Linked DNA regions of Homo sapiens. The protein of the gene in region 1 purifies or fractionates together with the protein of each later gene. This does not show direct contact. Each region holds a gene or a part of one and is shown in the gene's direction. Other genes may lie near its edges.

The links.
Region 2: the proteins of SPRED2 (region 1) and FTO purify together in Homo sapiens (affinity purification with mass spectrometry; one large-scale study listed by BioGRID and IntAct). This does not show direct contact.
Region 3: the proteins of SPRED2 (region 1) and SMCHD1 purify together in Homo sapiens (affinity purification with mass spectrometry; one large-scale study listed by BioGRID and IntAct). This does not show direct contact.
Region 4: the proteins of SPRED2 (region 1) and AP4M1 purify together in Homo sapiens (affinity purification with mass spectrometry; one large-scale study listed by BioGRID and IntAct). This does not show direct contact.

What each region holds. Positions count from the first base shown.
Region 1 is NC_000002.12:65,314,100-65,317,599, reverse strand, and holds part of SPRED2 (sprouty-related, EVH1 domain-containing protein 2), read left to right. Parts: intron 1-716; coding exon 717-866; intron 867-3,430; coding exon 3,431-3,500. UniProt on the Homo sapiens protein: Negatively regulates Ras signaling pathways and downstream activation of MAP kinases. Recruits and translocates NF1 to the cell membrane, thereby enabling NF1-dependent hydrolysis of active GTP-bound Ras to inactive GDP-bound Ras.
Region 2 is NC_000016.10:54,116,656-54,120,155, forward strand, and holds part of FTO (alpha-ketoglutarate-dependent dioxygenase FTO), read left to right. Parts: 3' UTR 1-3,500.
Region 3 is NC_000018.10:2,802,122-2,805,517, forward strand, and holds the end of SMCHD1 (structural maintenance of chromosomes flexible hinge domain-containing protein 1), read left to right. Parts: intron 1-406; coding exon 407-431; coding exon of another isoform or gene 432-514; 3' UTR 515-2,896; downstream 2,897-3,396. UniProt on the Homo sapiens protein: Non-canonical member of the structural maintenance of chromosomes (SMC) protein family that plays a key role in epigenetic silencing by regulating chromatin architecture.
Region 4 is NC_000007.14:100,104,643-100,107,090, forward strand, and holds part of AP4M1 (AP-4 complex subunit mu-1), read left to right. Parts: intron 1-231; coding exon 232-298; intron 299-402; coding exon 403-456; intron 457-597; coding exon 598-704; intron 705-802; coding exon 803-897; intron 898-1,316; coding exon 1,317-1,361; exon of another isoform or gene 1,362-1,473; intron 1,474-1,598; coding exon 1,599-1,649; intron 1,650-1,760; coding exon 1,761-1,872; intron 1,873-2,015; coding exon 2,016-2,240; 3' UTR 2,241-2,448. UniProt on the Homo sapiens protein: Component of the adaptor protein complex 4 (AP-4). Adaptor protein complexes are vesicle coat components involved both in vesicle formation and cargo selection. They control the vesicular transport of proteins in different trafficking pathways.

The sequences.
Region 1 (3,500 bases):
CACAGATGGGATAACCATTCTTTTATTTATGTTTTGTTTTTGTTGTTGTTGTTGTTGTTGTTGTTGTTGTTGTTGTTGTTGTTGTTTGAGATGGAGTCTTGCTCTGTCACCCAGGCTGGAGTACAGTGGCTCAGTCTTGGCTCACTGCAGCCTCCGCTTCCCGGGTTCAAACAATTCTCCTGCTTCAGCCTCCCGAGTAGCTGGGATTATAGGCACCTGCCACCATGCCTGCCTAATTTTTGTATTTTTAGTAGAGACAGGGTTTTGCCATATTGGCCAGGCTGCTCTTGAACTCCTTACCTCAGGTGATCCGCCCGCCTTGGCCTCCCAAAGTGCTGGGATTACAGGCATGAGCCCCCGCGCCTGGCCAGGGTAACCATTCTTGATCAAACTAGAACACAAACCTTTGGGGAGCCTGGTATATCCAGCCTTTCCCCCCGCACCCAGTCACTATTCCCGCATTTAAGAAAAACCTACCTTTCCAGGGTCTGGTGGCTGGGCTTCTCTGCCTGTTGAACCAGCCACATTGTGTTTAGACAATCTGGCCATTCAGGGGTCCTCCTGTTGTAGCCAAGACAAACTCAAGATTTTGGGAAGAGCAGCAAATTGCCACAACCAGGGAATAGCTAGTATTTGAATAGTGCATGTCAGGGTTTGCTGCGTGGGGTTTTTGTTGTTGTTTTTAAATTGACTCTTGGTTACCTCCCTCTACACAGACAGCTACAGACAGTTCTTCTAATTCCTCTCAGAAGAGAGAGCAACCTACTCGGACAATCTCCTCTCCCACATCCTGTGAGCACCGGAGGATTTATACCCTGGGCCACCTCCACGACTCATACCCCACAGACCACTATCACCTCGATCAGGTGAGCAGCAGCCCTGTTCCTCTGAGGGCATCAGGGTGGTGCCTCTGATTCTGGAATGGCCTCTTTCCCCTCCTATTCAGCCAAATTCCATGACCACAGGCCTCTCCTGCTCCTGCCTTTACCCCCACTTCATATTGAAAGTGGCATTGGTGGTGGCACCTCAGCCTCATCCAGTGTTTTCTGTGTGCCAGACACCTTGCCAGACCCTTTATATGCTTTATGTGGTTTAATCCTCAGAAACTGCCCCACAAGGCAAGTCTTCAGCCTCCCCAGGTTATCGATGAGGAAGCTGAGGCTTAGAGAGGTGGAGTATCTGATGGAACGAGATTCAAATCCAAGCCTGTTCTCACCCAGGGGGCTACACTGCGTCCTGCATTCCTCTGTCCAAAGGGCCTCCCAGCTTTGTGTGGAAGCCCAGAGCCACAATCAGGACTAAGGAATGCTGCACACTTGGCTCGAGCCCCCAGCCTTACAGGCTACAGGCCCAGTCTTGCTCAGGCGGATGTAGCTGGAGCTCAGAATTCGGTAGTTCAACAAATATTTACCAAGTGGCTGCTTTGCAGAGCAAGTTCCCAAATCATGGGGCATGGACTGGTGCCTGTGTGGGGTGCTGTGGCCACTAGGCTGCTTTGAAATGAGAAAAAAGGGCAGTGAGTTGTTTTGTTTTGTTTTTAAACATAAAACTAGATTTATTTGACTCTTTTTAAAAAAATTATTTTAGATTGTGCTTCCTAATATTTTGGGATTAAAATGTCCTATTTAAAAATCACATTATTGGCCAGGTGCAGTGGCTCATGCCTGTAATCCCAGCCCTTTGGGAGGCCGAGGCAGGTGGATCACAAGGTCAGGAGATTGAGACCATCCTGGTTAACACGGTGAAACCCCGTGTCTACTAAAAATACAAAAAATTAGCTGGGTGTGGTGGCGGGCGCCTGTAGTCCCAGCTACTCGGGAGGCTGAAGCAGGACAATGGCGTGAACCCAGGAGGTGGAGCTTGCAGTGAGCCAAGATTGCGCCATTGCGTCATCGCAACAGAGCAAGACTCCATCTCAAAAAATAAATAAATAAATAAATATCACATTATGCTAGCAGTAGATGGAAATTAACTTTTTTACTTTCCTTACTGTCCAAAATAAAGAATTAGTAAAGCCCGTGTCAGTTTCCGAGATTTGTTTTGAAATCCTTCTGAAATCATGATTTTCAAAAATCTAGGCAACTCTGATACCAAGAATTTGACAGGAATTAAGGTAAAATGTGTGGGACATGGCCCTGCCCTCTGGTAGGAAGTGATGGGTAAATCTAATAAGCGCATGATCAAGTCCGTAACAATATGATAATGACTGTGATGGCGAGAGTTATCAAGTGCATCCTGTGAGCAAGGCTGTGAGCTGACACCCTCTGTAGATTGTTTCTCTTCATTCTCAAAACAGTCCTATGCAGTTCGACAGAAATGGAACCTGAGTCTTAGGTACTAGCTAGAAAATGTCAGCATTTGACTGCAGTGAGTCACTCCAGAGCCACGTTCCTCAACCCCTGAAAAACCTTCATGCCCAAAGGACTTCGAAAGCAAGAAGTCTCAGTTCTCTGCCTCCACTGAGAGGCCCTGGGTGAGCCAGGGTTATATGCATGTAATTAATAAATATTTATTCAGTGTCTGCTGCTCTGGACAAGGCAGGGTTGCAGCCTGTAGCAGGACTAACTGCAGAGAAAAGCCTCTTCCACCCTGAGGGAGAATGCAGCTTAGATTTGCAGGTTTCTAGAGGGTGTGGCTCTTGGTCTGGCCACTCACTATTTGTGAGATCCTGGCAGGAGTGAAACTTCAGTTTCCGGAGCCTTCACTCTATCCTTCTCCTGTCCGCATCTCACCAGATGACATGGTGAGCTACTGTTTCCTAGTGTCCCCTGTCTCTTGAAGGAGACACCCACAGGGAGAAATGCATCTCCTATTGTGATCCTTTGTGGACATATTGTGCACATATGGATAATGAAGTTTCGTAAAACAGGACTTACCTTCTCACATGTATTGCACTCCAGTGTCCTTATTCTATTTCAATTTTTAAAAAGCCAGCCTTACAAAAGAGAACATACCATACAAAAATAGGCAAAACTAATGCAGGCCTTTAGAAGTGAGTGTAGCCCTCACACTGGGGCTAGGAGATCCCTGAGGGAGGCGGAAGATACTCTGGGGCACAGGTCCTGTTCTGCCTCTTGATCTGAGTGTGCCATGCTCCTGAGAACGCATCACACTGTGCCCTTGCCATGTGCACACTCCCCTGCCTGTATGGCAGTGCGTCACCAGAAAGGGAAAATACTGCCGGTCTCAACCCACGAAATTGATTTCCTGGCCCATTAATGGATTGAGACTCTATTTGAAATACATCTCTGACTGGGCGACAGGATATTCAGTAATTTCAGGAAGGGTCTGTTTCTTCACGGAGCATCGTGATGGAGTTATCGAGAAAGGTGCATTTTGGACGGCTAGGGAGGGAGAAGGTGGGGTGTTTTTTTGTTTGTTTGTTTTTTGGCCGCTGCTGTAAAATAATGTCTCCTCTCCTACGGGACAGCCGATGCCAAGGCCCTACCGCCAGGTGAGCTTCCCGGACGACGACGAGGAGATCGTGCGCATCAACCCCC
Region 2 (3,500 bases), on another chromosome or scaffold:
GCAAGACAGCAAGGGCACCCCTGGGCCACTGCTGTGTTTGGGAGGCAGGTTTTGGGGGTTGTCAGAAGGCATTCACCTGGTTCTCTCGCTCACCTGAGACACCCGATAGATTCCTGGAAACTCCAGGAAAGTATCTGAAGATCTGGTTCTCCATTCTCTCTTATTAACAAGGAGAACCACAAGTGCCCCCCAGATCCCGGCTAGAAGGACCAGACAGCTTTCCACCCCGGTTCCCAGGCAGCCCTGCTCCCATAGTCCTGTGTCCCATCGGCCCCATGCTCCCAGGACAGTCCTAATTCCCACCTCTCAGAACCTTGTCAGCCAAGTTCTTCCTGCTCTCTGGCCCAAATCCTCCTCCTACATTGGAAACTGAGCCTCTCTGCATCCTCTGCTCTTTCTATCCCGCTGTCATTCATCAGATTTTCCAAATCTTTGGATTCCTGAGTGGCAGAAGAGGTTTTCTGAGTTTAAGTTCTGATTCTGTGTGTGATTCTCACTCTACCACCTCTTCAAACCTTTGTTGTCTTATCTACAAAATAGAATAGTAGTAATCCATCACCTAAGGTTGTTGTGAAGGTTCAATAAGTTAATGCGTATTTAAAATGCCTCCCACAGTACCTGACATATACTGGGCTTCAGTGAGGTACTAGCTATTATTATTAACCAAGTTTCCTGTGGTAACAGTTGTAGCTTTGTGACTGGGCCAAATCACTTAACCCCTCTGCGCTCCAGTCTTTGTTTCTATAATGGGGATGATGATAATGCCTAGCTCATTGGATTGTTCTGTCCCCTACGATCAGCCATGTTAAGTGATTCATATCATGTCTGGTACTTAAAAATCACGCCACGCATGTACATTATTATGATGAAAAATATGATCCGTGATATCCTGACCAAAATATTAAAGGGACTAAAGATAGCTGTGGCTTGTTCAAGAAGAATATTGTGTCACTATCCCATATATTATCCCATTTGCTCTTCACAGCTTCCATTTTTCGCTAGGCGGATGGCATGGAACTTTTTATAAATGAGATATTATGAAAAATGATGTTTTAGGACTCTCATTTCTACAGTGGGAGTAGGTCACCCATTGCAATTTTGGATTTGCTTAAAAAAATTCTTGCCATCACCTTCTAATGGATGATCTGTGTACAACAATTGTTTATTGACTCTGAATGTCTAAGTACCAGGGTCAGTCTATTTCAAGGGGAGGGAAGCATTAATTAACCTCCAGCATTAGATTCAGTGATTCTTTTCCAATGATGCAGTTCATGACTTTGCTCGCATTTACTTTTCATCAATCCTGAAAGAATTGAGGTAAAATAGTTCCTCTGCACATGTGTGTCAAGCTAAATGGATAACAGCAGATACAGATCTGTTTGCCTGTCTGCACTTGCCTTTAGACAAAATTCATCAATTTTACAAAAGCCACTGACTAAACATGGCACCAATACAAATGAAGCACTTCTAGCAGGCGGAGATTCCCTTTGTTTCTGATCTGGTAAATGCGGTAGTTTCCTGCTGAGAGATGGGAAGTGCTGGCCTAGGACAGCAAGGTGCCCTACAGGTGGGGCCAAAAGGGTCAAGACCGTTCTACAGGAAGTTTAGGAGAAGTTCAATGGTTCCAGATCCTGTGTGCTTCGGGTAATTCTGACCCTCTTCATTAGTGATAATGGCATGAAGCTCTTTCACACAGTCTTTTTTTTTTTTCTTTTTTTTTTTCAGACAGGGTCTCACCCTGTCACGTAGGCTGGAGTGCAGTGGTGAGATCACGGCTCACTGCAGCCTCGACTTCATGGGCTCAAGCGATTCTCCTGCCTCAGCCTCCTAAGTAGTCGGGATCATAGGCACTTGCCACCACATCCGGCTAATTTTTTTGTAGAGACAGGATTTCACCACATTACACAGGCTGGTTTCAAACTCCGAGGCTCAAGTGATCTGCCTGCATCGGCCTCCCAAAGCGCTGAGATTACAAGCGTGAGCCACTACGCCTTGCCCTCCACACAGCCTTGCTTGGTGTTAAAGATTAAACAAAGACCACAGGTGATCACTGTCTTCGTGGTGCCAGTTTCAAGGGCACCCTTCTTCCCTTCCCAGCCTCCGAGAGAAGGAGAGAGGGTCCACAAGCCAGATCCATCCCCATCCACACAGGTAAAACCACGACTGTGCAGCTAGCAGGTGGAGATAACATTTGGAAAAAGGCTTTGTAAATGCTAAAGTCCTACTCAAGTCCAAGGGAGAGAAATTATTATTATTCGTTTTGTGAAACCAATTTAGTTTGGCTGGGTAATGGAAGAATTTCTACATACATTCATTACTTCTGATCAGGCAAGACCAGTCTGACACAGGAACAGTCTATGGCTCACTCTTAAAGCCACAGCAGGCTGCCAGGGCTTGGAGAAATAGAAACCTCTCTTGCACAAGAATAGTCTCAATGAATCATGTTAAGGCCTCTTTAGGTTTTTCAGACTCCATGCACCCTGTGGAAACTGCCTTTCTTGAGTAGAGGTACGTTCAGCACTTCATAAAATAATCTTGGAGCCTCCAGACACACGGATGGAGGAGCATGATTTCATTTGTTTCTTTGCAAAACTGCTGTCCCCAACTGAAAAACCTGATTATCCTTTCAAATAGGGAATTCGGCTTTCCACGTTGGAACCAGAACAGTTAACCTTCAAACCCCCAAGGCTTGCAAGAGATGAATCAGTTTCTCAGACAGCCAAAGCCGTGGCTTATAACTCATCCAACCCAGAAAACTGGACCGCTGGTCACCTTCCTTCCCCCTGCCCCCAACTCTGCAGACAGAGGTTTCCCGTTGATTATGCCTTGATTAGAGTCAGGAGAGAAGCAAACCAGGTATATAGGATTCCATTATCCTTCCCTCCTCTGCTCCCAACCAGGGTCACGCTGAGAGGGATCTCGGTGAACATGTGAACAATCAAGCCATGTTTACCATGGACGTTTAGTTTTCTTTTCTCAAAATCAAAACAGAGTTTAGTAGGCAGCGTATTTCATACATGCCCCTTGATCAATGGAATGATCTGTCAGAAGCCATTAAAGCCCCCATTAGCTTGAATGCATTCAAAGCTAAACTATTGGATCATTTAAGGGCTGCAGTGATTGTTTTTAATATACCGTACATTGATTTCTCCCTGTGAGCAGCAACATAAGTTTGAAACTAACTGTGTATGACTAAGGCTCCATTTGCTGTCTCCAACCCTCTGTGAGAAGCATGGTTTCACTTCGACCAGAAATGTCTGTGTATAGTTTTCAAAGAGATGCAGACCCTGTTCGATTTCCCAAGATTTAGACTGGGTCGGGTTGTTATTTCTTTTTTCCCTGAGCTTTCTCCCATTTCTTTGTGCCCATTAAGTGAGCTGTGCGTGCAGAATGGGAGAGGCATCCCTGCCAAGGACTTCAAGTGAAAGGCGGTGGGAGAAATTGTTCTGAAAGCATGAAGCCCAGCTGAGGCCAAAATCAAAGTGAATTTGACAGCCTTG
Region 3 (3,396 bases), on another chromosome or scaffold:
ATTATGAATATTAAATGTTTTATTTTGCTTGTCTTTGTTACTTTTCTGTAATAAGCATTATAATTCCTGTTCTTAAAATAATAAGTTCATTTAAGGAAAAGGGGGTGAAAGGAAAAATCTGCAGAATTTAGGTCTGAGATAATACCATTTCAAAGCACTGTGATACAAATTACTTATATATGTTATATACTGTGTGTGTGTTAACTACTTTTATTTGGGGGCTTGTTTTGCATACATGTGAAGGAAATGATTATATATAAGGATTTAATTAAATCTGTTTATACCAAGAATTATATTTAAAAGAATATGGTTTCATTGGATATTTAAGCATTCAGGTGTGATGAGGGAATTCAGGGAAAGGAAACCTTTGGTACATAAAACTTTTTTTTCTTTCCCCTTTGACCAGGATTATAACCAAAACAGATGTATGAGAGGTGACAGAGAGAAGAGGCCATTGGTCTCAGTAAGAATGCCCTGCTTTCTGCATCTCTGTTTCAGAAGACCAAGAGGGTGACTTACCAGACTGAGTATTTCTGGGGACAATACAAGTACCTGGGCATGAATTTCCATTTCGATTCAGATGGGACTGGAAACAACCATTCAATTTTATGAATCTTACTGGACATTATGGATTTACTGGAATTATTCCAGACATTATGCCCTTTGGTTGTCACTACCTTGCAAATGTGTAAGAGGAAAATGTGCTAATGTGGCAGTGACTGTAAAACTGGCACATGGCATTTATTAATCCTGAAGAAAAGTACATGTACTATTTTTCAGTATAAATATAATGAACATGTCAGAACTATTTCTTGAAAACCTTTTTATTACTTTTGCGTGAATTTATTTAACAAAGATGTTTTGTCTTTTGTGTAAGGGAGGTTCTAGAGGCTAGATGTTTAATTGTAAATATGTGAGGAAACTCAATGCAGAATTCAGGATAAAAATTTTAAAAGCACAGGTATTTGGGAATTGAAATGTTAAGATACCCAGAACAACATTAAATCAATGAGTGAACTTGTGACAGTGGTAGCATTTCAAATTTCAAAAGACTTATCCTGTGTGTGTGTGTGTGTGTATATATATATATATATATAAATATATATATATAAAATATTCAGCAGCACCAAGTTTTATAACTATTGTTTGTTTGACTTTATTAATACTAGAATATGTAGTCTCAGCCTTAATTTTACATTTACATTATTTTGTAATTTTTTATTACTATTTTTAAGGGGTTAAAGAGAACATACATTCTCACATTAGTGTACTTTCTGGTAGAAAGTTGCTGCAAAAACATTTGAAATGTATATTAACCTAATGTATGTCATATATATGTCTTTGTGTAAGTTCAAGACTATTGATCTGTGAAGTTATTTTGTAAGGACATACATTTGGTAAGTAAGTTTGTGTCCCAGGAAATGTATGTGTTTTTAAACCCTTTCTAAATATGCAGGCCATTAATAAATAAGATTGTTTCTTCCCTACTGAATAGATAAGTGTTTTTCTTTTTTAAAATTGGAAGCTTCATAAAAGTTATCTTGTTAAAAAACGATGATGATGTTAACCTATCTATCTTTATAATTGGAAATTATTTAAACTGTTTGTTGTTACAGAAGAAACAAAATGGTAATTACAGAATTAGCTGTGGGGAAGATTGGCTCCCATGGTACTACAGGTTGAGTATCCCTTATTCAAAATGGTTGGGACCTGAAGTGTTTTGGATTTTGGTTTTTTGTGGGGTTTTTAAATTATTATTTTGGAATATTTGCATTATATTTACCAATTTAGCATCCCTAATCCAAAAATCTTTCATTAGAAATTGGAAATGCTTCAATGAGCATTTCCCTTATGTGTCATATCTGCGCTCAAATGTTTTGAATTTTGGAACATTTCTTGTTTCTGACTTTTAGATTAGGGATACTCACCCCGTACCAATATTTGGAGTCCTTAGACATTAGATTATATGAAAATGATTGATTGATAGGTAAGAAAGGTTAAAGAGAAATGACTTTTTAGGAACTAGACTTGAACGTATAATTAATATGTGGAACTAGTTTGCTTTTATAATTCATTGTATCAAGAAGGAGTCATGTTTTAAATCCAAGGCATTGAGACTATCTAGAAGCAAAAAAGTTGGTTTTAAAAATTCTTTTTATTAGAAGTGTGTTTAAAAACATGTCTTTTTTTCCCTTGAGCGACAGTGGCCTCACTACATTGCCCAGGCTAGTCTTGAACTCCTGGGTTCAAGCAGTCTTCCTGCCTTGGCCTCCTAAGTAGCAGGGATTACAGGCATGCACCCACATGCCAATTTTTATTGCTTAAAATGGCGAGTTCTATGGATATTATCTAGCCCCAAGCCCATATCTGTACACTTTTGTTCATTTTATAATACCAGAAAGAATGTTCTATCAGTAAAAGAAGGTTTTTAAGTATGAATCTCCATTTTTGTGGAGTTTTTCTACCCTGTAAAAATTAACTTTGTGGTTCCCAGTAATTACAGTAAGGAGTTTTTCTATATTTTCACAGTTGGATTTATCTAAGGATATTTCTCAGCATATTAAGGAATCCTTTTCTACATTTGAGCAAATACTGAGGTTCATGTTGTACCAAATAATAATAAATTGCTTTTGTGTTTAATATGTAACACGTAAGAACAATTGAAATTTTCTTCTAAGATTTAATACTAGTCTTTTAGTATAAAGGAATGTAACTGGAGAAAAAAATTAATGCTACAGCCATTTATCCTGTGTTATGTGTTATATAATCTGAAATTTGTCACAATGTTACAATCAGGAAGTTTTTTTTCTGGTTTCTTCTTCCAAAGGAAAATAATAGCCTACTTGTATTTTGAAGTAACTGAAATAAAACTCTCTCCAAGCCTTTTTGCACATTACGTTCATCAGTTTTCATGTGTACATTTGGCCAGGCCTATGGTAAAAATAGGCTCAATTTACTTAACATTTTTATAGGGTTTTTGGTATAAGATTCTTTACAGAGACTAAAATTTGTTGCATATATAACATTCAGATTATTTTAAGTGAAATTGGCTCCTATTGTTAAATATTAGTGCTAAGGAAAGTTCAGTCTTCTAAACTGTCTATACTTTGGCTCTGTGACTTGATTACTTTATAGTCATTATGAAATTGATGGGGTTAATTCCATTGTATTTTTAGTATAGAATTTTCAAATAATACATTTTAGTAAAAAAATTGAATGTTTAATTTTCATACTGTGAAACTGGTGAAAAATATTAAAAACAACCATTTAAAACTTCTGGAAATGGTCCTGAGGACAAATGGCAATGAAGAAACATCTATTCAAGAACATTTACAAAAATTCAGTAAGGAAGATGAGAATCTGTGGTAGTTTGAACCAAGACTGACTACTCACTTC
Region 4 (2,448 bases), on another chromosome or scaffold:
CAACACAGTGAAACTCCATCTCTACTAAAAATACAAAAATTAGCTACTTATGGTGGCAGGCATCTGTAACCCTAGCTACTTGTGAGGCTGAGGCAGGAGAATGTCTTGAACCTGGGAGGTGGAGGTTGCAGTGAGCCGAGATCACGCCACTGCCAGCCTGGGCGACAGAGCGAGACCGTCTCAAAAAAAGAAAGAAAAAAAGACTCTAACCTTGACGCCCCTGCCTCTCAGGGATCCCTGCTGAAGGTGGATGTGCAGGGAGAGATTCGGCTCAAGAGCTTCCTTCCTAGCGGCTCTGGTGAGGCATCTGCAGGCAGGACCAAGGGTTGGGGTTAGGGCGGGTTCCTTGGTGTCTTAAACCATGGCATTGCTGAGCTCTCCTGATGGTCTCTCCTCCGACAGAGATGCGCATTGGCTTGACGGAAGAGTTTTGTGTGGGGAAGTCAGAGCTGAGAGGTGAGGAGAAAGTGGGTCTTTCTCCCCTTGGAGTAGGTCATTGCCAGAGTTCATGGAGAGAAGTCAGACAGAGCCTCCCCTCTCCTTGCTCCTCTCCCAAAACAGGAGTCAGGAGAGAAGTCTCTCTCTCTCTCTTTCCAGGTTATGGGCCAGGAATCCGGGTCGATGAAGTCTCGTTTCACAGCTCTGTGAATCTGGACGAATTTGAGTCTCATCGAATCCTCCGCTTGCAACCACCTCAGGGCGAGGTCAGGGTTGGGGTGGCCTCATAAATTCCGTCCACCATGGGGAAGGGGGCAGTGGGGTCGTGAGACCAAACTAACCTTGTTGCTCTCTGGTCTCTCAGCTGACTGTGATGCGGTACCAACTCTCCGATGACCTCCCCTCACCGCTCCCCTTCCGGCTCTTCCCCTCTGTGCAGTGGGACCGAGGCTCAGGCCGGTGAGACAATTTCCTGGGTTCTAGAACTACCTTGGAACCCAAGCCAAGACCTGTATGTTCCCAAGACTCACTGCAGAGTGGGGGTGGTGGTAGTGGTGATGGAGTGCAAATTGGAAAAAGGCTTGGGTTGCGGCCGGTGGCTCACACCTGTAATCCTAGCACTTTGGGAGGCTGAGGCGGGAGGATCACTTGAGCCCAGGAGTTCCAGACCAGCCTGGGCAACATAGTGAGACCCCATCTCTCTGAAAAAAAAAAAAAGGAAAAAGCTTTGGCTAATGGAGTTGGGCTGGGCTTCAGCCCTTTTCCCTCTTGGGAGTACAGCCCACACCCACACAGCCCCACATGGAGGTCCCTGGTGGGGAATGGTGAGATGCCAGTAGAAGATGGCCTGAGTCGTGGTGTTTTACCCTCTCATCCAGGCTCCAGGTTTATCTAAAGTTGCGATGTGACCTGCTCTCAAAGAGGTAAGAGTGAGGCTGGCCTGGCTGAGTTCAGCTCTATGGGACGGAAGACAGGGCCAGGGCACCTGCTGCTTCTCCCTTCAGATGCAGCTGCCAGCCTCAGAAGCCAGTTAAGGTAGAGGCTGTAGAATTTGGGAAGGTGGGGGGCACCTGTGCTGAAATCCTGTTATGACATTGAAGAGGAACAGGACAAGGGACTGTGCCTTCCTGGGGCTGACTTTGTTCCCGTCTCCTCTGTAGCCAAGCCCTCAATGTCAGGCTGCACCTCCCCCTGCCTCGAGGGGTGGTCAGGTGAGTGTGTGCACCCACCACGGGGAGATTCCTGGGGAGAGAGTGAGCTCAGCATGACGGGTCTGCCTCAAGAAGGTGCCAAGCCCAGCACCTTCCCTTTCCAAACTCCAGCCTGTCTCAGGAGCTGAGCAGCCCAGAGCAGAAGGCTGAGCTGGCAGAGGGAGCCCTTCGCTGGGACCTGCCTCGGGTGCAAGGAGGCTCTCAACTCTCAGGCCTTTTCCAGGTATTCGCTGTGGACCCCCAGCCCCTCTCCTCCCACATTCACTTGCAGCCCCCACCCCACCCTCCCGAAGCAGCTGCTGCCTGGTTCCCCCAGCGTGGTCAGCTTCTTGCCCTCCTTCCTCTCCCTGCCTCTGCCCCTCACAGATGGACGTCCCAGGGCCCCCAGGACCTCCCAGCCATGGGCTCTCCACCTCGGCCTCTCCTCTGGGGCTGGGCCCTGCCAGTCTCTCCTTCGAGCTTCCCCGGCACACGTGCTCTGGCCTCCAGGTCCGATTCCTCAGGCTGGCCTTCAGGCCATGCGGCAATGCCAACCCCCACAAGTGGGTGCGACACCTAAGCCACAGCGACGCCTATGTCATTCGGATCTGAGGCTCCCCAAACGAGGACACGACGGCCAAGGTGGCAGTTTGTCCCACGGGAGGACAGTCGTTTCTTTTCCAGCCTCCTGGCCTTCGGACTCTGAATCTGGGCAGGAAGAGTCCTCAGTCCCAAGACCAGGAGGGGGCAATGGGCCCAGCCTTTCTGTGGTATCTGATGCAGGAAGGACTGCAGTGGATCAGAACTTACAAACCAAACT